Regions from separate parts of the Homo sapiens genome. Here region 2 is linked to region 1. Evidence: fine-mapped expression QTL. A gene starts in region 1. The other region holds a variant in brackets. All regions are shown on one strand. Distances are between the middles of the regions.

Evidence for each region. PIP is the estimated chance that this variant, and not a neighbour inherited with it, causes the effect.
Region 2: its variant is fine-mapped to the expression of CDH22 in pancreas (GTEx, PIP above 0.99).

The regions. Positions count from the first base shown.
Region 1 is chr20:46,304,219-46,315,622 of GRCh38, reverse strand. CDH22 (cadherin 22) reads left to right here and starts at 7,125. Exons shown (of 12, transcript NM_021248.3): 1 at 7,125-7,368. RefSeq lists an enhancer at 1,460-2,408.
Region 2 is chr20:46,325,553-46,336,956 of GRCh38, reverse strand. No RefSeq gene overlaps it. Among named protein-coding and RNA genes, the nearest start is that of CDH22, 23 kb to the right of the region's middle. The variant C/T (reference allele first, on the strand shown) is at 6,549.

The sequences.
Region 1 (11,404 bases):
AGAGCAGGACCGGGATTTCCACTTGGATCTGTCTGCTCCAAAGTGTGTATTTTTCTCCACGAAAAATGAGCATTCCTGGCAGTAAGGAGCACTATCGGGTGAAGGAAGAAGCACTCAGCTCTGAGTGGGTGAGGTATGAGTTGAAGTCTGAAGCCTTGGTGAGAGAGAACAGACAGCAAGGGATGGAGCAGAGGCTGCTCAGCCAGAGACCACATGGGCAAAGGCCTGGAGGTGGAAGGCCTGGAGGTAGGAATGAGACCTTCAGGCAGAGGTGAGCTGGCTCTGGGGGAAGCAGGGAGCAAGCCCTGATTTGTATTGTTTATCATTTCTTTTTTGTGGTGTAAATATTCTCAACCTGGCCAATTTCAAGGGCTTGCCAACCTGGCTTGCAAAATTCCTGGAAAAAGACTCTAACAACTGGCTTTGATAAGCCAGCACAAACCAGTTCCAGCACATCACTGCTTCAGGTGTCAACAAGAGAAAGGCCAGGCAGCATCCACACAGGGAAGACGCAAGACAGGGCTTGGAAAATTACGTGTGGAGCAGAGAATCCTGGACCCCGGAAGGGCTCTTGGTCATCATGAAATCTTCCCCCACCTCTCCTCCTTTATTTTATGCAATAGAAAACCCAGGCCAAGAAAAGAAAGAACTAGAGACCTGCCCAAAACACAGAGAGAGTTGAGGTCGGAGCCACAGCCGGAAGATCTTAGGCTTCTCAGGATACCTAGCACTTTCTCCGTGGCATCCAACTGCCTGTTCCTAAGAAGTCGTCATCTGTGATGGCCCCATCAGGCATGAGAGTCAAGGGCTGTGCTACCCATGAGGGGCAGGAGGAGGGAAGAAAACAGGGACATGTGTTCCAGGTCCAGTGGAGTGCAGAGGTGGGACAGCTTCATGCCACCTGCTGGATTAATACTTAAGCTGGATTTCAAAAGATAAATAGGAGTTTTCCAGCAAAACAGAGGAAGAGAGGGAGCTCCAGGTGGCAGGGACAACATTAAAAAAGCTCAGAGTGGATAAAAGCTAAAAGAGTTTGGCACTACCAGAATATAAGGTGCAAGAAGGAAACAGCTGGAGAGGAAGCTGGAGAGGCAATGCCCTGTTCCTCATGCTGAAGCCATAATGGTGGGCTTTCAGGTAGCTGCAGAGAAGCTATTCTTAGATGGGTCCTCCTCTCTTGCCAGAACAACATGAATGAAATGGTACGGCAAAGTCCACTTCCTCATGGGTGAGAACCTTCAGGTGAAGGAAGGTCCGGGTTCCCTGGCATGTTGGCCCCAGCCCTCCTGGTGCTCAGCAGGTCACTCGGCCCGGGGTGGGTCCCTCGTCCTCATCCCCTTGCAGATCCCCTTTCCCTTCCCACTGGCGGCTCTTCTCTAGGCCAGGAATAGAACCTCACATCTGACAATCCTCAGCGGTGTTTAAATTTAATGGGCCTTTCTGCTTTTTTCCTCCTCAGCACCTGGGCTGGGCGCTCTGCAGCAGCCCTGGGGAGAGGCAGGTGAATAATTCAGGGAGAGTCGGTGTTTGAAGTGTGTGTGGGGAGTGTGGTAGGGCTGTCTCACCCCACCACCCCAGGGAAGGGGGCTCAAGAGGGAAGGTCCAAGTGCTCAGTTTCTGCTGTACTCTGCTGTGTCTTTAGGGACTTTCAGGGAAGCTCAGGGGACTCTTATTCCCATCTCCACGCAGCCACCTGCAGTGTCAGGCCTCAGGGCTGCAGAAGCTGTCTAGGGCTGACAGGTAGGGAGAGGGAAAGGAGGGAGGCGCGTCTTTCCCACTGGCTTTGGATCTGGGTCCAAAGAGAGAGAGAGAGAAGAGACAGAGTGTGTGTAGGAGACAGAAGGTTGGGACCTAGCCCCAGACAGAGGTTACAGGAGCGGGGTTAGGGAGCTGGGATGTGGGCTGAGATGTCATGCCCAGAAGCAGGGCGGGCCCACCAGGCTGCGGGAGAGCTTCCGGTGTAAAGCTGGATCCTGGCCTGGGCCATAGCCACTGTCCATAGTGCTGCCGTTGTGCTTAGGCCCTGGATGGAGTGCCAAGTTCCCAAGGCTTGGAACTTGGCAGGTGCTGGGCTCCTGTTTTTCCCACCTGGCCCCACCCCAGCCCACCACAGACAAAGTAGCCTTTCCATTTTCTAACCTTGGCACCTTTCCAGCATTTGCATTCATTCATTCATGCATACCTTTAACAAGTATTTATTGAGCATCTACTATATGCTGCATTCGGAGGATAGTGCAGTGAACAAAACAGACTCAATTCTTAAGCTCCTAGAACTTGTGTTCCATCCCTGCACCCACTTCCTTGAGGAAAAAGAGGGGAAAGGAGAGGAAGGAGCTGGCCTTAAATTCCTGTTCGTCCCCTGACTTGGTCTGAGTCGTCCAGCAAGTCACTTTCTCCCCTTAAACCTTGGTTTCCCCAGCGGTAGCATGGGGACGATAACCCTGTTTTGTGAGTTGTTGCTGCTATTCTTCTTATTAATTACAGCAAACACTTATTCTAAGTGCCTTACAAGGATTTGCTCATCCAATCTTCACCATCTCTATTTTACTATAAGGAAATTGAGATGTGGAGAGGTGAAGTCACTTGCCCAGGGTGACACAGCTGGCAAGTGGCGGTGATGGGATTTGAACCCAGGCAGTCTGGCTGCGGGGTCTGCGAGGATTAACGCCATGAGGTGGAGGTGCTTAAGGGCGCAGCGGCCTCGGCGCCTGTGGCTCCCGCAGGCTCGCCCCTCCCCGTCCTGGCGCCCCCAGCCAAGGGCGGCCTCCCCGTCCCCTCGAAGTTCCCTTCCCATGGAGTCCCCTCCCCAAGTAGTCCCCTCCCCCTCCCTGCGGTCCCGTCGGCCCCGGCGGAGAAAGCGGGCTCGCAGAGGTGCAGAGCGCCCGGAGTCCCAGGTGGGGCGCCCTCGTTCGGGTCCCGGGTCCCTCTGGGGAGGGGCTAGGGTGTGCCCCGGCTGCTCCCTACGCCCCCCGGCGGGCTGGCGGCCCCGTCCCCGCGCTGACATTTCTTTGGTTGTTCATGTCACGGCCCTTCAGTCTGCGCAGTTTTACAAATGTGCTGGCGAGATGAAAGGCGCCGGGAACAGCGACTGGAGAACAAGTTCGGAAAAGCTTTTAACTTCCAGCTCCCACAGACAAAGCGGGAGGAGGGGGAGGAAGGGAGGGAAGGGAGGGGAAGCACAGAGTGGGGAGAGTAGAGGAAGGGAGCGGGAGGAGGGGAGTGGGAAGGAAGGAGGGAAGGAGGAAGAGGAGAAGGAAGTGTGGGGAGAAGAGAGAAAGGGAAACGGGGCACTGAGAGTGCGGGATGAGGACAGAGAGAACCAGAATAGGACAGGCAAGAGGGAGACAGAGGGAGACTGGGTGCCCCGAAGAAACAGAGATGGGAAGAGACAGAGAAACAGAGAGAGGGAGACAGACATGGAGGCAGAGAGAACAGGACAGAGGGAGGGGGAAACGGAAAGAGAACGACAGACGCAGGGACACAGCTAGGAGATAAGCAGATGGGGGGAGGGGAGAAGGGTGCTAGAGAAGATGTAGGGGCAGGTAGCAAGAGACTGACACCCATTCAGAAACAGTCAGAGAGACCAGAGACACTGAGGGGGAGGAGACAGAGACAGGAGTGGAGGCAGTCAGAGAAGCGAGGACAGATGGACAGTGCATGAGAAGGCGACAGACAGATAAAGGGATGACAGAGAAGTGTAGAGAAGAAGAGGAAAAGAGCCAGGGAGAATAGCAGAGCCTGGAGCTAAGAGCAGCCTCCCCATCCCCAACACACACGCGTGTATGCACTCACACACACACACACACACACACACACACACACCCTTCACTGACCCCTGCTCAAACCTGCAGGCTCCCTGGAGCAGACCCTGCTGTTAGGGCGTTCAGACTAGAGCAGTGGCTCTCAACTGGGGGTGACTTTGCCCTTCAGGAGACATTTGGCAATGTCAGGACACATTTTTAGTTGTCACAACTGGGGAGGGGGTGTGCTGCTGGCATCTAGTGGGTAGAAGCTGGGGATGCTACTAAGCATCCTACATGGGACATGCCCAATGACGAAGAATTATCTGGCCCAAATGTCAATAGGGCCAAAGTGGAGTGACCCTGGGCTAGAGAGAGAGAAATGCCCATGGACCCAGATGACTACTCCAGGGGAAAACATGTCCCCTGTGCCAAGACAGGGCTGTGTGCCCTTCTGATGGAGTGGGAAGGAGAATTCTCACAAGCGCCTCCTCTTGGAATCCTTCCCTAGCCATGCCTCTCTCCCCAAGTCCTTCCTCATCCTACCCAATCCCTGGAGGAGTGGTGTCTCTCTTATTTGTAGACTCACCACACGATATAAAAAAGCACACGTTCAAACTCTAACTACAAAGCACTTGGCATTTTATTTGCCCAGAGGCAATATTGCACAACAGTTCAGTGTGCAGGCTTTGGCCCCAGCCTGCCTTGGTTTGAATCCCAGCTCTGCCATAAACTAATTGTGTGACCTTGGGCACGTTTCATAGTTGCACTGTGCCTCAGTTTCCCCATTATGAATTTATAAATTTGTTGAAAGTAAAAGGAAATTATCTGTGTAAAACATTTAGGAGAAGGCTTGACACATGGCACAGGTTCACTAAATGTTAACTGTTGTTACTATCATCTCATTTTCTCTTCACATCAATGCTGGGGGAAGTGGCTTGCCCACGTGTCACACAGTCTGCATGGGGCAGAACTGCTCTCAGAGCCCAGGCCTGCCCAGTTCTTCCTCTGTCACACTACACTGCCTCTTGCTGCCCCTGCCACACTGCAGCAGGAGTCCCAGCTTACCTTCTCCCAGACCAGAGTGAGAGGTCTGACCCAGGCCCAATGCGTCAACCTGATCTCTCTACTTGCCGTCTGAATGATCTTGCTATTTCAACACCGTGTCTCAGTTTCCTCATTTGTAAAATGGGCTAATACTAGTATCTGATTATTGTGAGGACTTAAAAGCAGAACTATGGCACACAGCAAGTGCTCAATAAACATTCAATGTGTTCTCAGAGCCTAGCCATAGTGCTCACAACAGAGTGGACACTCAGAGAAAGTTTGTTGAAGGAAGGAAGAATTGGAAATAACGGTAGAATGAGCCTGAAAATAGGAAACATTGGGATAGGAAAACCTGAGGGTCTAATAAAGAGTCATGGGGAGCTGGGTGCAGCAGCACATGCCTGGTGTCCCAGTTACTTGAGAGGCTGAGGCAGAATGATCACCTGAGTCCAGGAATCCAGCCTGGACAACATAGTGAGACCCCCATCTCAAAAAAAAATAAAAATAAAAGAGAGAGAAGAGAGAGACCAGAGCAAAAGAGAAAGATGTGACAACAGTTCATTCAATAACATTTATTGAGCACCTACTGTGTGCATGCAGATGTGACAGCAACAGTGTCCCAGACCAAAACAACCTGTGGACAACTAAGTAGGTCTGACTCCAGAGATGAACAGCACACACCAGAGCCTGGAGGAAGAGGCAAAGAAGGAATGGGAACTGGAGCAAACAGCAAAAGTGAGTCAGAGCGGGAGGAGAGAACCAAAAGTGAAGAGATGCACCTGGAAGGCTGGCCTCTGGTCTCTGAAAGCATGAAAGAGTGGAGGCTAAGAATAGAGAGGAGAGGGGAAGAGAGAGATGGAGAAAAGGAAGGCGATAGAAAGGCAAGGCTGGAAGAGATCAATGAAGGGAAATAAACCAAGAGAAGGACGTAGGGGAGGGAACAGACTGGCACAGTGGAGAATACATCTCAAAATAAATAAATGAATGATGGAGTTTAGTAGGAGGGGCCAGAGGGGCAGCCAGCAGGAGAGGTGATTCCAATCATCAGCAAGACGGACTAGGGTGTGGAGATGGAGATGGAAATTGGGGAAGGAGGCGAGGAGGAGAGAAGGATAGGGGCGAGGTAGAGCTGGGGGTCCTGGAGGGCCCTGCCCCCTCTTTGCCATGAACTTCAGCAGCTGCTTGTGGGTGATTAAATGGCTGGTCATTGGCAGCTTGGCGGGACAGAGGTCTGCAGCTGTCCAGTCTCCTGTTATCCTTCACTCACCTATCTGGAAGCCATGGGGAATAGGGGGGCGGGCAACTCCTAAGGGGACCTACAACCCAAGACAAAGGGTGGGTCTATGGGAGTCACTGGTCCTATCCTACCATCAACGACCTCATATTGGGAACTCAGGAGTGGGGTGGGAGGGTCTCCTCCATTAGGCCTCATCCCAGAGAGATGAAGTAGTAAGGAGAGCCAGGCAGCCAGGAGAAAGAAACAGGGCCAGGTGGAAAAAACATCAGGGAGCAGACCAGCCGGATTTTTAAAAGAACGGAAAACCCAACCAGCAAGGAGTTTCTGGGCAGTGGGAAGATTTTATTGGGAGACTTCTCCAGGTCAAGGTGGCACCAAGTTAAGGATGGAGGTGTCTTGTTTTGCCTGCTTACTTTGTTGGTTGCAAGGATGTCCAGCGGGACTCTCCAGAGGAAAAGCCCACAAGTTTCTCTCCCGGGGACACCCGACCTCCCACCTGCCTGGAGACTCAGCCCTGGGCACCTGGTCGGTGTCCACCTCAATGCACAGTGACTGTTTCTGAACTGGCAGATCTGGTCTGTGCAAGGTGCCTTTCTGGGCAGCAAGCCGGGGCGGCCACTGTTCGAGAAGCCTGCTCCTACCCTGGCCTGCGCCCCTGCTCCTCTGAAGGCGGCCTCCCGCAGTAGTCAGGGGGCGGAAATGGGAAGCCCTATTCGCAGTAAAATCAGGTGGGGAAATAGGCTCTGGTCTCAAACTGCGGCCACCTGGGGAGCTGCCAGGCGAGGAGGTAGATGGTCCCCCTCCTGGGGGCGCTCCCTTCGCGCGGATCTGGGGTTGGAGGAGGGAGGGGCACTGTCCCCTGGGGGGTTTCCTGGGACTGGGCCGCCCGAGAGAGGGAAAGGCTGTCCCCTCCTGGTGTAGGAGGGGCGCGATCCGGGGGGCGGGGGCTGGGGTTCCCCGGCTGCGGGGGTCCGGGCCGGCGGCCGCCTGCGGCTTGGCGCTGCGCGGCTCCTGCCCGGCGGGCCCTGCATTCTCCGAGTCTCCACCAGAGGCTGCGGGAGGAAGGAAGGGATCCGTCCCTTGCACACTTCCCCCCAGTCAGACACGCACACTCCCTCGCTCCCGCTCGCTCGCTCACTCCCTCGCTCTCTCGCTCTCTCGCTCTCTCGCTCACACACACGCGCGCACACGCCGCCGCGGCTCCCCCTCTCGCTCCCGCTCTCCCTCCGGCTCCTGCGGGCGGCCGCGGGGCTCCGGACTCGCCCGCTGCCCGCGCCGGGGCTCCCGCCCCACGCAGCGTCCCGAGGCGGCAGGACTAGGGGGAGCCCCGGGCCGCTCCCCGAGGTAAGAGCGCGGGGTGCCGCGGGAGGAGCGGCCGGATCGCCGCCGAGGGGAGGCTGCCCGGCAGGGAGGGAGCCCCCTGGCCGGCGGGAGCGGCCGGGCAGGCGGCGCGGGGGGCGAGCCTCCAGCCGCAGGAGGAGCCGGGGTGCCTGCGCCCGGCCCTGCGCGCCCCCTCCTCTCGGCCGGGAGGGCGGGGAGGGAGTTTCCCACGTCCAAACTTTCCCCGGCGCGGAGCCGAGCCGCCTCTCGGCCCGAAGCCCGCAGCTCCCACCCGTCCCCACAACCTCGTCCGCCGCGCGCCCGGGAGCCTCCGGGACCCCCGCGGGCCGAGGGGTGGCAGCGCCAGGGGCCGAGCCGGCGCGCCAAAAGGGGCTGGGAAGGTGGCGCACAGCCCTGACGCGAGGGCTGGGACCCAGGCGTTCCCGGTCCCCCAACCCTGCTAGCGGGGCTCGGCTCCCCGGCCCCTCCCAGAGGCGGGGTCCGGGGCCGGGAAAATACCGCACGGCGCGAGCGTGTGCGCGCGGTGTGTGTGTGCGAGGTCGTGCCGCGTCCGGGGACACCCGGAGGCTGACTCCAGCCGCGGCGACACGCACGGTTCTGGTCCCCTCTGAGCCGGGGAGGCGGCCCACAGGGACCCCTGCCGGCCCCACCGGCGCGACCCCCCCTGCCCTATGGCCGTCGGGCGGGCTGGCGGTGAGCGAGAGCCAGCGCTGCTCTCTTCCTTAGGACCCGACTCCGGAGACACCGTCCCCGCTGGGGAAGAAGGACGGGGCCCCCGACAGCCTAACGTCCAAAGAGAGCGCCACTTAGGGCTAACCCTCGGGGGCCGCGGCGTTTACTGTGAAGAGTGGACTGCGTGGGCGCGCGGGGTGCCGGGCAGCCCTGGGTGGGCACAGTGTGGACCCGTCTCGCTCGCGCCTCCCCGCTGCCTCTTCTCTGGCAACGTCGGGCCCTGTCCCAGGCGGGGCTGCAGAGGGTAGGGCTGATCCAGGATCCCCCGAGGTCTCCCCGAGGTGCAGGGCACCCCCTTGTGGCGGGCAGAGAAGCTGCTGTTTGAAGCTGCTCAGGTCTTCCGAGGTGCTCGCTCCTTGGAACCTCTTCTCTCCAAACCCTTCGGGCGTCGCCAGGGTTGCGCATGCCAGCTTCTTTTTCCGTGGGGCTGATTCCAGCACTCCCCAGGTTTCTGGGGCTGGCCGAGGTGCCCCCAGCACAGGCAGCGGCTCATTTGAGGGCTTTGGCTGTTGCCAGCTCTCTCTCCCTCTCCACCCAGGTTCAGGATCTCATCCTCTTCTCCCACTGGTCAGCGCCAATACCCTATATCAGCATCACCACTGCCCTAGGGCCCAAAGGCTCCTCCCTAACCACCGCGACTCTCTGTCCTTCATTTGTATCCCGTATATGTGTCCATCAGTGCCCACTCCGTCCCCCTCAGTTGCCCCTAGTCTACAGCCCTTGTTGAAACTTGGCCTCTACACCCATAGTGACATCCTTTGGTCTTTGCCCACCAATGACCATTTCCTCGTCCCCCCCAACCCCGACCCATCTTCTATCCTGTCTGCCTCAGTTTTTCTGTAGCACTCAACTGTTCCCTGCCCCAGCCATTTCTCTACTTCACCCTTATTTCCCTCCTTGTCCCAGTGTCTGGGACACTCCTCTTCCATTCCTCCTGGAAGGGAAGGGCATTGCCAACATTTAAACACTGCTTCCTGGAGATGTCTGTGTGCCCTTCCCGGTCCACCACTGCCAGTGCCTCGGGGGCAGGTACTTTATAAAGCCAGCCAGGTCTCTCTCAGCTAAGGGGCACCTGTACCTCTTGGGTGGCCCCATCAGGGGACCCCTGGAGACAACCCCTTTCCCTATTCCTAACTGTGAGCAGCACATTGGAGACCACCTGGGCTGCCCTCTTTTCCATTTTCAAGGATTGGCAACAGCAGCCCGAGGTCACATGGTAAGCTATACCCAGAGCCGGAATAGGAACCCAGGCATCTTGACATCCAGGCCTCACCAACGCTGCTTATGTGTTGGGTAGGCCTGGGGCAAAACAGAGCCGTTTCTTGGCTTCACGCTGCAGGCAGGACAAGAAGACACTTGCTCTAAATTCAGCATGAGGTGTTCAAGTTAGACCCCCAGTGCTCCCAGGCCAGTGCCGGAGGAAAGCTGTTGAATGCCTTTAGCAGAGACGCCGAGTAGCAGAAGCAGAGGACAAAGTTTGGCCCCTAAAAGTGTGTTGTGACCTCCGGGTGAGTCACAGCCTTTCTGTCAAAAGGGTGGCTGTGATCTCTGGATGTTTCTGGTCGTGCTCTGGAATAATCATACCTAGAGGTTGGAACCCCCAAAGCCCCTGCTGCTTCCCCAGGCACTGGTCTTTCTGAGAGCTTTGCAGGAGCGCTGCATTCTGAAGTTGTCTGACAGGGGGCCGGGCCATAGCTAAGGCAGGGAGCCCAGGAGGGCCCGTCTCCTCCCGAGTTGGCAAAGTTCGGAGCAGCCAGTTTATTTACCACATGGGCGATAAGAGTCAGCCAATTAAACTTCCTCTCCTCTCTCTCTCTGTTCTTCCCCCTCCCCTTTTTCTTCCATCAGGAAGCTCCAATCTGAAATGCAGCCTCAGGTAGAGTGAGAGAGAGTGAATGATTTCTGTTTATATAACACGGGTAGCAGCTGGCACTGCATGGCCTGGGAGGGAGTGAGGGAATAGAAGACCCTACGGTGGTGTCTGGGCTGAGGCCCCGGGGCCAAGGACTTCCTCATTCCTCCCCATAGCTGAGCCAGGAAGGGTGCTAGGGGCTGGGGACCAGGTGGGGAAACAGGCTGAGAGGAAACCCAGGCCTCAGGTCAGGCTCAGAGAGAAAAGCCTCATGCCCCCCGCAAGAGTGGGCACACCCTCCACCCCGGGTTCCTCAAAGCACCTTTAAGATGGAGCTCTCAACTCAGGCCTCTCCTTCCTACAACCTTGTGTTTTGATTCTGGCCTCTCTAGAGAAAGCCTAGATATTTCACCACGAGGACAGGCTCTGACCTCAACTTTTCATCAGGGCAGTGGGCATGATAGGACTGTCTTTCCGCCCATGGAGGAGACAAGGCCTAACAAGAAAGTTGTCTGTGGAGTGATTTGAGCTCTGTGTATCTGGCAGGAGGGACGTTTTCTCATTGTTGATGATACACAGTGGCTGCTTGGAAACAGAGGTGCAGGACAGGAAGGCTGGAGGCATGGCTGTTATATGCAGTTGGGCAGGTTGTTGACTGTCCAAGGGCATTTAATGCAGGAGGAGAGCGGGGACTGAAATCTATTTTAAGCTCCACTCTCCAAGTCAGGTGCCCCAAAGACAGGCTGTGCCTGCCTGGAGGAGGGGGCATCTTTCTCTAATTTGCAAAAAGGCTTCATATACTTACCAGCCATGGGCCTATGGGGCTGCTTACCCCCAGAAAAGGATCCCTTTCTTTAATTACTCCAAAGGTGGCCCATCTGGGGGTTAAGGATATATTCACTACTCACTCCTTAGCTCAGCTCTCTTACAATGGGCACACACCTTTCCGAATATGTGGGTCTGATTTCAAACACATGAGGTACAGCAACCTGGAGGAATTCCCTTCTTCCCCCACATTTCCCTCCATGCCCCATCAGCAGGCTCCTTCCTGCTGTCACATTGGGATTAGGCTGGGAACTTCTTGCTTTGTCGTCAGACCCACAAGCCTTCAGCCATCCACTTGTTACCAGCTCTTTCCTGTGCATAATATAAATAGATGATTAAGCGCGTAGGCATTGGAGTCCAACCAGCCTGAGTTTGTGACTTGCTGGCAAGTTACTTTACCTCTCTGAGCCTTAGTTTCTTCCTCTGTGAAATGGAGGAAAATGTAATACCTGTCTCATTGGGTTGTGAAGATCAAATGTGCATGAGCATGTATGGTGCTGAGCACAATGCCTGGCACATAGGACACCCCATACATAAAGCAGTATTGTTATTGCTCATATCCCTCCATTTATATTCCTTGGTTCCCATGGGGTAAATGCAGCAGTTCCTCCTTGTTTGGTTTTGCACATG
Region 2 (11,404 bases), 21 kb before region 1:
GCTGTGTGACCTCAGGTAAACCACATCACCTCTCTGAACCTCACTTTTCTTTTTCATAAAACAAAGGTAATCCCTTCTTCTCACAGTGCTGTGAGGGTTACTGGACAAGTGTGCACAGAATGTGTGAAAGACCTCTGGGACAGGCCCTGACCCGAGGTCAGCACTCAGTCAACAGCAGCTTGGAATACGTGATCACAGCCCAGCCCAGAGAGGGAACCAAGGAGGATACAGATCATAGGATTAATCCCTTGCATTTGTCAAGTGTTTCACACTGTGGAAGGAGCACTCACTCACAACCGTCTTTGCATCTGAGCCTCACTTCAGCACTTTAGGAATGAGAGGATGGAGAGTTTTTAACTTTTAAGTTCAGGGGTTACAAGTGCAGATTTGTTGTATAGGTAAACCCATGTCTTGAGGGTTTGTTGTACAGATTATTTTGTCACCCAGATACTAAGCCTAGCACCTATTAGTTATTTTCCCCTGCTCCTGTCCCTCCTCCCACCCTCCACCCTCCAACAGGCCCCAGTATGTGTTGTTCCCCCTTTGGGTCCATGTGTTCTCATCATTTAGCTCCCACTTGTAAGTAAGAACATGCAGTATTTGGTTTTCTGGTCCTGCGTTAGTCTGCTAAGGATGATGGCCTTCAGTTCCATCCGTATCTCTGCAAAGGACATGATCTCGTTCCTTTTTTATGGCTGAAGTACCGAGAGTTTAATTTTTTTTTTTTTTTTTTTTTTGAGACGGAGTTTCACTCTGCTGCTCAGGCTGGAGTGCAGTGGAGCGATCTTGGCTCACTGCAACCTCCGTCTCCCGGGTTCAAGCGATTCTCCTGCCTCAGCCTCCCAAGGAGCTAGGATTACAAGTGTGCACCACCATGCCCGGCTAATTTTTGTATTTTTAGTAGAGACGGAGTTTCACCATGTTGGCCAGGCTAGTTTCGAACTCCTGACCTCAGGTGATTCACCCGCCTTGGCCTCCCAAAGTGCTGGGATTACAGGCGTGAGCCACCATATCTGGTCCTTGATCTACATTTGACAAAAGAGACACAGAGCTGTGGTGGCACTGGACTCTCAGAAGCAATCTGCTCAAAGGTCACCAGCCAGTAAGGTTTGGGGCAGGATATGAAGCCAATTATCTCCTTTCCTGTCTCTTTTCAAAATAGACACTCATTCATTCACTCAAGAGATGGTCCCAAGCTAAGCCCCAGGGAACTGGCAATAAATAAGGTAGACATAGCACCTGCCCTCAAGGAACTTCGAGTCCCGTGGACTCAGGATGCTCCCCCCACACTTCACCGATTTGAAGGGAGACCTATTTTTGCTAGATTTTCCTTCAAAGAAGGAAGGCAAGATCTAGCAATCTTGCCCACTCGCAATCTTGCATCACTTGCCCAAGGTCACTCAGCATCAGATCTAGATGACAGATAGGGAAGTGCCTTGAGTCTAGAGTTATGGCCAGGAATAGGAGCGTTCTCTGTCCTTGGGGATGACATCCACTCACTAATAAGCCCAGAGATAGACACTAGGATCCCAGGATGAATAAGAGTCCTAAAATGAAGGATTCCACAGCCAAATGCACTGGGAAAAGCTACACCATCTCCACCCCTCCCTGCAAGTCTGCTGCTCCTGAACACACTGTAGGCTCTCTGAAAATTTCTACAGAAAGAAACCACTTAACTCGATGTTTCTCAAATGTACTTGACCATGTGAACCTTTTTTTCCAGCCACACCTACTGAATTTGGAGTATGATAGGCAGAGGAAAGAACACAGGCTCTGGATGGGATCAAACTGTCAAGATATTAAAACACAGAGGAGGGAAGGTCACTTGCCCAGGTCACTCAGCATCAGATCTAGAGCCTGGGTCTCCATGCTGTTGCTAACATGAGAAGATCCTTAAGGATATTCTGCCTGGCCTCCTCTCTCAGAGAGGTGGCCCTGACAACCTGCTATGTGGTAGTTCATTCTGGAGCTGCTGATTCCTTCCTAGCCTTTGTGCAAATTAAAAGAAGGTACCACCTTCTTCTGGGCCAACAAAATCCCATGTCAGAGCACATGGATTGCAAAAGTGTAGTATGGGCTGGATTTCAGCCCCCACTTGCCCCCTTAGCCAAGCACCCTGGTGCAGGACACAACCTGTGCAACTGTACATGGCCACCCTTATTAGCCCTTTCCTCATTCCTCCTCACTCATTCTACCCTTGGCCACTTCACGTGAGGGGCGCCCTCCCCTCAGTGCTGGGCTGAGGCTGGTGTGGGAACAGCCCAGTTGTTGGGGCTGTACTTCCAAACCCCAAAGCAGCATCAGCCAAAGGTGCTGACTCAGCAAACCTTAATTTATCTCACAGGCCAGGGGTGCGCGTGAAGCAATTAGTGAAATAATGGTTATGTCGCACTAAAAATTATTTATAGAGTCACCGTGCACACAGCTGTGATTAAATTAGACAACCAGGGGGACTTTAACTGCTGGCGGAACCAGCATCCCAGGCCCGGGCTGCAGCTGGCTGGGGGTGGGGCAGGGTCATGCTTCTGGTCTGCTCACCCACTCCAGGCAGCTGAGCCAACCCTGACCCAGGCCAGGACATAGGGGGTCTACCTGGGCAGGGGTCTTGGGAGGAATCCCTGTCCCAGAGAGTCTGCGCTGCCAGGAGCCCTGAAAATAAACAAGTAGGGGGCTTTCACACATTCAAGGCTGAGCGGCAGGAAGTTTGTTCACGTGGAGCCTTCCGCAGCCCTTCACGAGTGAAAGAGACGTGGACTGAGAACCAGAAAAGGTGGTCCCGGAGCTCCGCGGGCTTGGTGTTGACTCCAACAGTGGCCCCCGAGAGCCCAGATCCCAGCTGGAAACCATAGATCGGTGAAGCCCTCTCATTTTACAGTTGGTGAAACAAAAGGCCAGGGATTTCCTCTCTCTTGTTCCTCCAGCAGACATCAGGAGACCTTTGATCCAGCTGGGATCCTGGATGAACTCTTTCCCCTCTCTGGACCTCAGTGTATCCCCCTGAAAAGTAAAGTGTTGCACAGGCAACAGATATTGATCAAGCACCTATTGCCAACTGGATACTGTTCTGTGTTTATATTTATTGCCTTATTCAAGTTTGCTTATATTCTTCTTTAGCTCCTCACAACATTCCTATAAAGTACGTATTATTGTTGCCACTTTACAGATGGAGAATCTGAGGTTCAGAGAGGTGAAGATATTTGCCCACAGTCACACAGCAAGTGAAGCAGAGCCGTTTTTCTAAAGGCCCATCAGACTGTAATGATAGAACATTGTGGTACACTGGGCTGAGATGCTGCAAAACGAAAACAGAACTTCCTTTGCACCGGCTTCTGGGCAGGACACTTGAGATGCCTCATTTCATTTCATTAGCAGCCCCTCAGGGGTAGATGTGGAAGCTGAGTCACAGAGTGGTTCAAGCCCCCTGTGATTGGCAGGGCTTATTTTTATCAGCAAGACCTGAGCTAAGGAGCTCCAAAGGGGTTGCAAATGGAGCTGCCCACAGGGGCCCAGCAAGTACCAAAAACAGACCTGGATGGTGGCTGTGGCCATCTGGACTCCCTTGCAAGCTCTGCCTTCAAATCCATCTGTTACCATGATGCAGCCCCAAGTTCAGGCCACCCACGTCTAGAGCACAAACCTTTGCCCAAAGACCAGAGCTACCTGTGTGATTTCAGGATTCTCCCTGGGAGCTGATGGTACCAGCTGCTCCGAGAAGTGGCAGCCGGGCGGAGAGTGTGGGTGGCAGTCAGGAAGCCCTCAGGGCACTGGCTTCTGGCCTGGCTCATCTGCCAAACCTGGGCCCTGCAAGCCTGGCACTCCCATCTAAGCTAAAGATAGTTTCAGACCATTTCACAAGAGTCGCAAGCCCAATCACCTTTTTACAGCCAGGGCATCTTCTTGCACCTCCCTGGCCCTGCCTCTAAACAAGCCCCTAGAGGCTCAGAGGAGTGGAGTGACTGGGCAGGGCCTCGAGGCTCAAGGCTCCCCCAGCCCCCTCCCCTCCCCTCTTCCAGCACCTTCCCCGATGCCTCCCTCATGCTCTGCTGTGAACAGGCGGGTCCCTCTCTCCAATCACAATTCTGCTGGCAAAGGGGATGAAGCTTGCTCTCCAGATGCCTCCTGCCCAGTGGCATCTGATCCAGGACCCTACAGGAGGAGGGCTAGAGGAGGAGAGGCCAGAGGATTGGGAGGAGCTGGCTGACCCTGGCGCCCTATCTCCCAGCAGGTATTTCCCGGGGAGTAACCTCTTACCCCACAAGACGCATCCTCCCCCTCCTTATTCCCCTGCCCCTGCCCAACATGGCTCCTCATTCAAACCAGGGCTGGCCTCTAGGTGCTCCCAGGTATGCGTGGGGCCTGGGTCGGCCCTGAGTCCCGCTGCTGCCTCTGGCCACTTAGCATGCAGTCCTTGTTTGCGACTGCAGCAACCAAATGAGATTAGCTTGCCTGCTCCAGCAGGTCCCCACTTGCCACCACCCACGGCCCTGCACAGCCACCAGCTGTTCTGGGAGCCTCCCACAGCCCCAGCCTGCCATCTCACCCCCATCACAGTTGGGCCAGTGAGGGGAAGGTAGGGAGAGGGTAAACAATCCTGCCCGGCTTTGTAGCCCCCAGATCCACCACCGCTCCCCACCAGGCCTTCTGGAGTCAGCAGTGGGGGGTAGGGATGCAGAGGGAGACAAACAGGATTCGGGATCCATCCTTGCTTGTATTCCTGGTCAGTTCTCCTCATGCCTGTAATCCCAGCACTCTGGGAGGCGCAGGCAGGAGGATCACTTGAAGCCAAGACTTTGATCTTGAGGCCAGGAGTTTGAGATCAGCCTGCACAACACAGTGGGACCTCGTCTCTACAAAGTTTAAAAATTAGCCAGGCGAGGTGGCACGTGCCTGTAATTCCAGCTACTTGGGAGGCTGAGGCTGGAGGATTACTTGAGCCTGGGAGGTCAAGGCTGCAGTAAGCTGTGATCACACCACTGCACTCCAGCTAGGGCGACAGAGCAACACCTTGTCTCAATAAAACAAAAAGGAAAAACCAAAACAAACAAAGAAAACTTCCTGGTGGGGAGCAAATCAGGAGGGCCTGGCTGGCTTCACCTAGACTGCCCCTCCTGTTGAATCCCCAGCCCAGCTGCCCTCCCTCCTCTGCCCCTGCGGGCCACAGGGGAGCCAGCAGAAGGGCCTGGCTCAGCCCGAGGCCTCCCTGCAACCCTCCCAGCCAGTGAAGGGTGTGGCTGGAAAAGGGGCCCAGTCCAGCCCAAGGAGTGTCCAGGGCCTGTGCAGGAGACTGGCAGGAAGAAAGTTTTCAAGAAAGCTGAGCTCCAAACCAGGCGACCGGAGAGGCGAGAAACCCCTTTGATGTCAGGACTCAGGTGTAGGTGTCTCGTAGAGGATTCCCGTGTTCCTGCTGACAGTCACAGCTGCCTCCCTGACTGTGGTCCTGGCTCGCCTGTGTCCTCCAGCAGCTTCTTTCTCTGACCACCATGCCCCCATCCCTCCCAGGTCTGTATCCCACAGACCCCCTGCCCAGACAGCACTAAAATCCTCTCGAGGCCACCCCGAGGCTCCTTTCCTAGCTGGGCTCCCACCGAGCTGCTGCCCAGCACACACCTCTCCTCACCTCTCCTCATACTCCCTGCCTGTCTCCTTCCCCTCCTTCCCCTACTCCCCCGACCTTCGAAGCCCAGGCTGCGGCTCCCGCACTGCACCCTCACCTCACACTTCAGCCCTGCACACATCAACTTGCGCTTCTCTCTACACGCACTTGCTGTGTAGCTTCGGGCAAATCACTGAACCACTTTGAGCCTCACTTTCCCCATCTGTAAAATGGGAGTGATCCCTACTTCTCTCAAGGGCAGATGTATGGCTCAAATTAGATCACAGCTGTGCATGTCCATCTGAATTTAGAACAGTCCGAGGGATTATTCATCGGGTTTGACGGCTTCTCCTGGGCTTGTAGATTTCGGCATGGGTCTTTGTCCCGGCCACACAGATGCTGCTCAGCATGGTTCATTTGGAGCAGACATGGCCCCTTCCATAGTGGACAGGGATCCCTTCCAGCCTCTGGCCACAGGCAGATGAAGGGAGCTGCTGCATGCAAAGGCAGGAGGGTGTGGATTAGGAGCCATCACGGGAAATGGCTTTCTTATCACGACACAACCGGTATTGCCAGGGCCAACTCTGGAAATTGAATTGCTCCCCCACTCCATGCCCCCTCAATACCTCTTCCCTCTGCTTCCTGCTCCCTCCCTAGCCCCATCCCCCATGACAGGGAGAGACCCAGAGACAGCGATGCAGGACAGAGCAAGTAGAGGGGGCAGTGGGGGTGCTCAGAGACTGAGGCAGAGATTGGGGCACCAGGAGGCAAGGGCAGGTTTGGCAAAATGCCAAAGGCAGGGCAGGGATGGGGCCACAGAGGGGGCCACTCAGGAATTCAGTAGACAGGGGGTGCCACCCTCCCCGTGGAATTCCCCACCACCCCACACCCGCCAGGCCAGAGCTTTGGCCAGCCAGGTTGGTGTCATCTCCTCTCTGTTGGCCCCTCTCCAGCT[C/T]CCACCTTGGCGCCTCTGCAGGGCCCGGGAAGGACCCTGATGGCCAGGGCAGAACCCTGGGCTGGCGCCCACGGGTGCTTGGATGTAGTCCCAGTGAGTTCCTGGCAGAGCCAGTCTGCAGGTGGTGGGGAGCAGGCCCAGTGGCCGGGGGCAGCCAGCTGTGTAATCAGGCGGGTTCTCACCACAGCCAGCCCAAGGGAGGAGGCGCACAGGGAGGGGCAGAGGGGGGGCCCAGCCCACCTGCCTCCAGCTCCCCTGGCAGCCCAACCTAGAGTCTCTCGGGGTAAACTCAGAGTCCAGGAGGCTCAGGAGGAGCTGCCGGAGGCTGTGCGGAGGCCTAGGACCCCATGAGTAGACCTCCAGCCAGCCCAGCCCCCAGGCCAGATGCAAAATCAGGAGCTAAAGGGTGCTGCCTCCCAGCCTGGCATGGTCCTGCCTCCCCTTCCCAACCCAGCATCTTGGTGTATAGCCTAAAAGTCTCAGACCCTCTCATGAACTGACCCCTGCCGTCAGCCTTTAGACTCTCAGCCCAGAAGTAGCCCCTTCCCTTAGACCCCTCTCTTCTCAGCCCCAGCTCACCCATCTCCCACCATGTGCCCATCCATGACTAGCCTGGTGCTCAGGAGCCGCAGCAGCCAGGGAGCCCGGCATGGGGGCACTGCAGCCCCAGGACCACGTGGCTTCTTCTCTACTCAGCCCACCCTGCCCAAACACATAAACTCTCTCTCTCTCTCTCTCACTCATTCACAATGTATTGCTGAATCTCAAGTTCATATGTTATGAGCTCCAGGGACCTCTTAATTCAACCTCCATTTACAGGTGGGGAAACCGAAGCCCAAGACAGAATGGACTTGTCCAAAGTCACCTGACAAGGGAATCCCTCTAAGCCCCAGCCAGCCCTTCCCTCCAAGGGTGCCCTCCCCTGGGAGTCCCCCTCTGGCCTCAGGACTCTCTCTGCCCAGACTTTGTGGGTTCTCCTGGCCTCTGCACTCACCTGCACCTCCCAGACCTGGCCAATTGCAGGGCCCCAAAGTTAATAAATCAAGGTGACTTTGGGGACAAGATTCAGCCTCTTTCTCCCTTGTCCCTCCCATTTGCATAATCCTGGCTGGCAATATGATAATGATGTTTGTTAAAGACAGAGCACAATAAATTAATACCGTTAAGTTGTTGCTGCAAAATGCAAAGCAGGTAATTTACTGCCAGCGAGGAACGGAGCCTTTAAACTGTAATGGATTAACTTTCCCAGCAGCAAATATGTCCCCCGAGGGAGGGAGGCAGGTGGGTGGGCTGGGTTGATGATAGGGGGGCCTGCCTGCTTCCCAGGGTTGGGCCAAGTGTCCAAGCCAAGATCTTAGGCCTGCACCTATGTCAGCCCCTCTCCATTGTACATAAGGGGAAACTGAGTCTTGTGCAAGACAGGGAGCTATGGAAGGCCACAGCAGGGCTGTGGTGGTGACCTGCCGGCTTTGTATGACAGCCCATTACCCTCTAGAGGAGGGGGCTGCAGATGCCTCATTTGCACACCTACTCTGGAACGCTCAGGAGGAGCTCCTGTTACAGACCCTGAACCTCCTCTTCCTTGAGGGGGACTAGTGATGTCCTCCCCAGAATCCCCCAGGCCCAAGAGAGGCCTCAGCTGCAGAGTCAGTCCTAGCCCAAGGAGGGAAGGATCCTGGGTTTTGTTAGGACTGAGAGGAGGGGAGTGGGAAGGGGAAGCGGGGGCGTGCCAAGAATGGGGTTAGACCTTGCCCTGATGCCCTCGGATACTGGGAGGGAGGGGCTGTGGAAGGAGGAGAGGAATGGGTCTCTCGAGAGGAAAGGTGAATTCTATGGTTGACGGGGAGGGGAGTGGGATGGCGGCAGCGGGGAAGGTGGGTGGGCAATGGGAGGCTGGGAGTAGGAGCGGCTGGCAGGCCTAAGGAGAAACTCAGGCACTGGCCCAGGGCCCCTCAGGGGCACCTCCTCCACTGGGGCTCAGACAGCTCCTTGGGTCCCTAGGAGAATTGCCGCAGCCCCAGCCCAGGGCGGGCCGGCAGGCGGGTCTCAGGGACCCCAGCGGAATTCTAATTTCTCATTTATCTCTGCAGCTTCTCCTGCGATATTAAAGGGGCGATGCTCTGCAGTTGGCTCCCAGGCTAATTGGATTTGGGCCTCCTCTCACTCCCTGGTGAGGGAGGGGGATGTGGCAGCCTTGATGGGGGAGGGGATGTTTGAGGACTTGGGCTGAGGCTGTGGTCCAAGGCCAGACTCCTAGGCTACAGTCCTGACCATCATGTGGCCTTCCCAAGCCTCTGCCCCTCTCCGGGCCCCGCATTCCCTCACCTGAGATGATGATAATGATATTAATAATATTAGTAATAAAAACAACAACCATGATTTGCATAGCATTTCCTAGACATAGACACTGTTCTTAGTGCTATTCAGGACAGCACTCCTCACCCCCTCATCCTAACAACAGCCCAGTGCATTAAGTATGATTACGTTCATTGCACAGACGAGTAAACTGAGGCATGGAGGGGTTAAGTAAGTTGCTCAGAGTCCAGACAGCACCCACAGTGAATGTCTTTCAGGTTTGTGAGGGGCCTAGAATCCCAACTTTAAAAACCCCGTTACGCTCAAATAGGCCTAAGGTGGGGGTGTTACTGCCTGCACCCATTTCACCGATGGGGAAACTGAGGTCTGACCCAGACATATTTTTAGCTTTAATTTTCTGTAGCTCCCACCAAGGGCTCCCTTCCTTCTCCTCCACCCCAGGGCCCAGGGTGTTTCCAGGGTAGAAGGCTGGGGCTTCAGAGGGCGCATTCAGTGCAAGTGTCTGAGGTGGGGCAGGGGAACTTGCTCCCAACACCTGCCTTTCCTCCATCGGCCCTGCCTTTCTCCTTCTCTGAGCGGAGGCCTCTGTCCCAGCATCCTCCAGGCCTGCTGGGGTCCCTTGTCCCACACTGCTCACCTGGAGGGAGGACCTCACCTCCTTAGCACAAATTAATTCCCACATGTGCCCCAGATGCAAACCACACAGCTCTGCAAGTCCACAGTGGAATAATGGAGAGGGGAGGAGGCCGTACATGGAAGCCTGTTTCCCAGTGACCCTAGAGACCGGCCCTTTACGCATGTTGCCTCATGTCATCTTCATGATAGACATGGCTCCAATGCCCATTTTACAAAGAAACAGAGGCTCCCGTGGAATGTTTCAGGCCAGGCCACACGGCAAGGACCTGATTGAGCTGAGATTCAAACCCAGGTTTATCTTGATCCAGAACCTGAGCTCTGGATACATCCTCCTGTGCAAGAGAGAAGTTGAGACTCCTTTGGAAGTTCAGTATCAGAGGGCCTGGAACTGGAACCCAGGATGACTACAGTGGAAGGAGCCCTGCACTGGGAACCGGTAGACCTGGGTTTCGATGTCTACCTGGCCCCAAACTCACTGTGTAGTCCTGGGTGAGTCACTTGGCTTCTCTGAGCTCAAAGGCAAAATGCAGAAACCACCGTGCCTACCTTATGGGGCTATTGTAAGTATTACAGGAAGTACAAGTAAAGCACTTATCACAGTGCCTGACACGTAATAGGTACTCAACCCAGGCTAGCCATCATTCTGTGGATGTATTCATGCTCACCTCCCAAGACTGCTGGGATAGCACCCGGGCAGAGCTTTGTTCTGTGTCATGGTCTCAGAGATTGCCAGAGCTAGAAGCATTGAGCACAATACCCTTGTCTTTCAAATGGGGAAACTGAGGCAAAGGGTTTCAACAAGTGAGTGGCAGGGCAAGGACTCAGCTCCAAGTGCCCTGGTGGCCTCCCTGCTCAGCAAAGATGACAGTTCTCCTTCCAGTCTCCTTTTGCCCTGGGTGTCTGCATCTGTCTGTCCAGGCGTCCCTCCCTGAGAGGCCAGCTGGATGGCTGACCCCTGCAGCTCTTTCCAGTCCAGCCGCTGGCAGGAACCAGCCAGAATAAATGCAAAGAGACCCCCTCTGGAGGCTGTTCTTGCCGTGTCCCCCGTCCAAATGTTAATTTTGCCAGGGCCTTGATAAATCTTCCTGTCGTCTCCATCCGCTGGAGACATAGATTTCATCTTATTGAAAGGTGACACTACTGCCCTTTGGTACCAGCTATCAATTTCAGGTGGCAATCAGAGTGGAGAGCAACAAAGAATCAGGCCCCATTAACTCCCCTTCTGCCACCGAATCCTACCTTTAAATCTTTTGGGGCCATCCTACTTGAGATGTCTGCTTCACCTGCCCTTCCAAAAAGGTGTCAGGACCTCATCTTTAGCCTTTCAGGGCATGCCTGGTTGAGTTCCTTTCTCAGGCCTCCAGAGCCACTTTGCTTCCCAGTGGGCAGACTGAAAGAGTCAGGAAATTAATGTCCAGCTCTTAACTGATGACTATTTGAAGCCAGAGTATAAGTACCCCAGCTCCTCCCTCACCCTTTGCTGGGGAATGGGAGTGGATTGCTCTGTGATGTGAGTCCTATTCTCCCTCCCAGAATTCCCCAGCAGAGTTGAGCTCCAGTTGCCCACAGTAGTAACAGGCTTGATAAAGCACCCGGTATTGGTTGCCTGCCTTTCCTGTATCACTTTCCCACTGTCCTACTGGTGCTTCCTGGGATCATTTCCCAAATAAATTACTTGCCCTTGAATCCATTTCTCAGGGTCTACTCTGGAACCCAAACTGTGGGAACACTGAAGATTTTTTAGCATCTCAAGATGGAATGCACTCCACTCAGCAGTGGAGATACAAGAGGCCTGACGTGTATTGATTGCCCACGACATGGCAGGAATCATGTGTTTTGGCTGCTAGATCAGTTTTTCATTCATGCTGCCAGACAGCTCTGGGAGGACTTGCCCCAGTTTTACA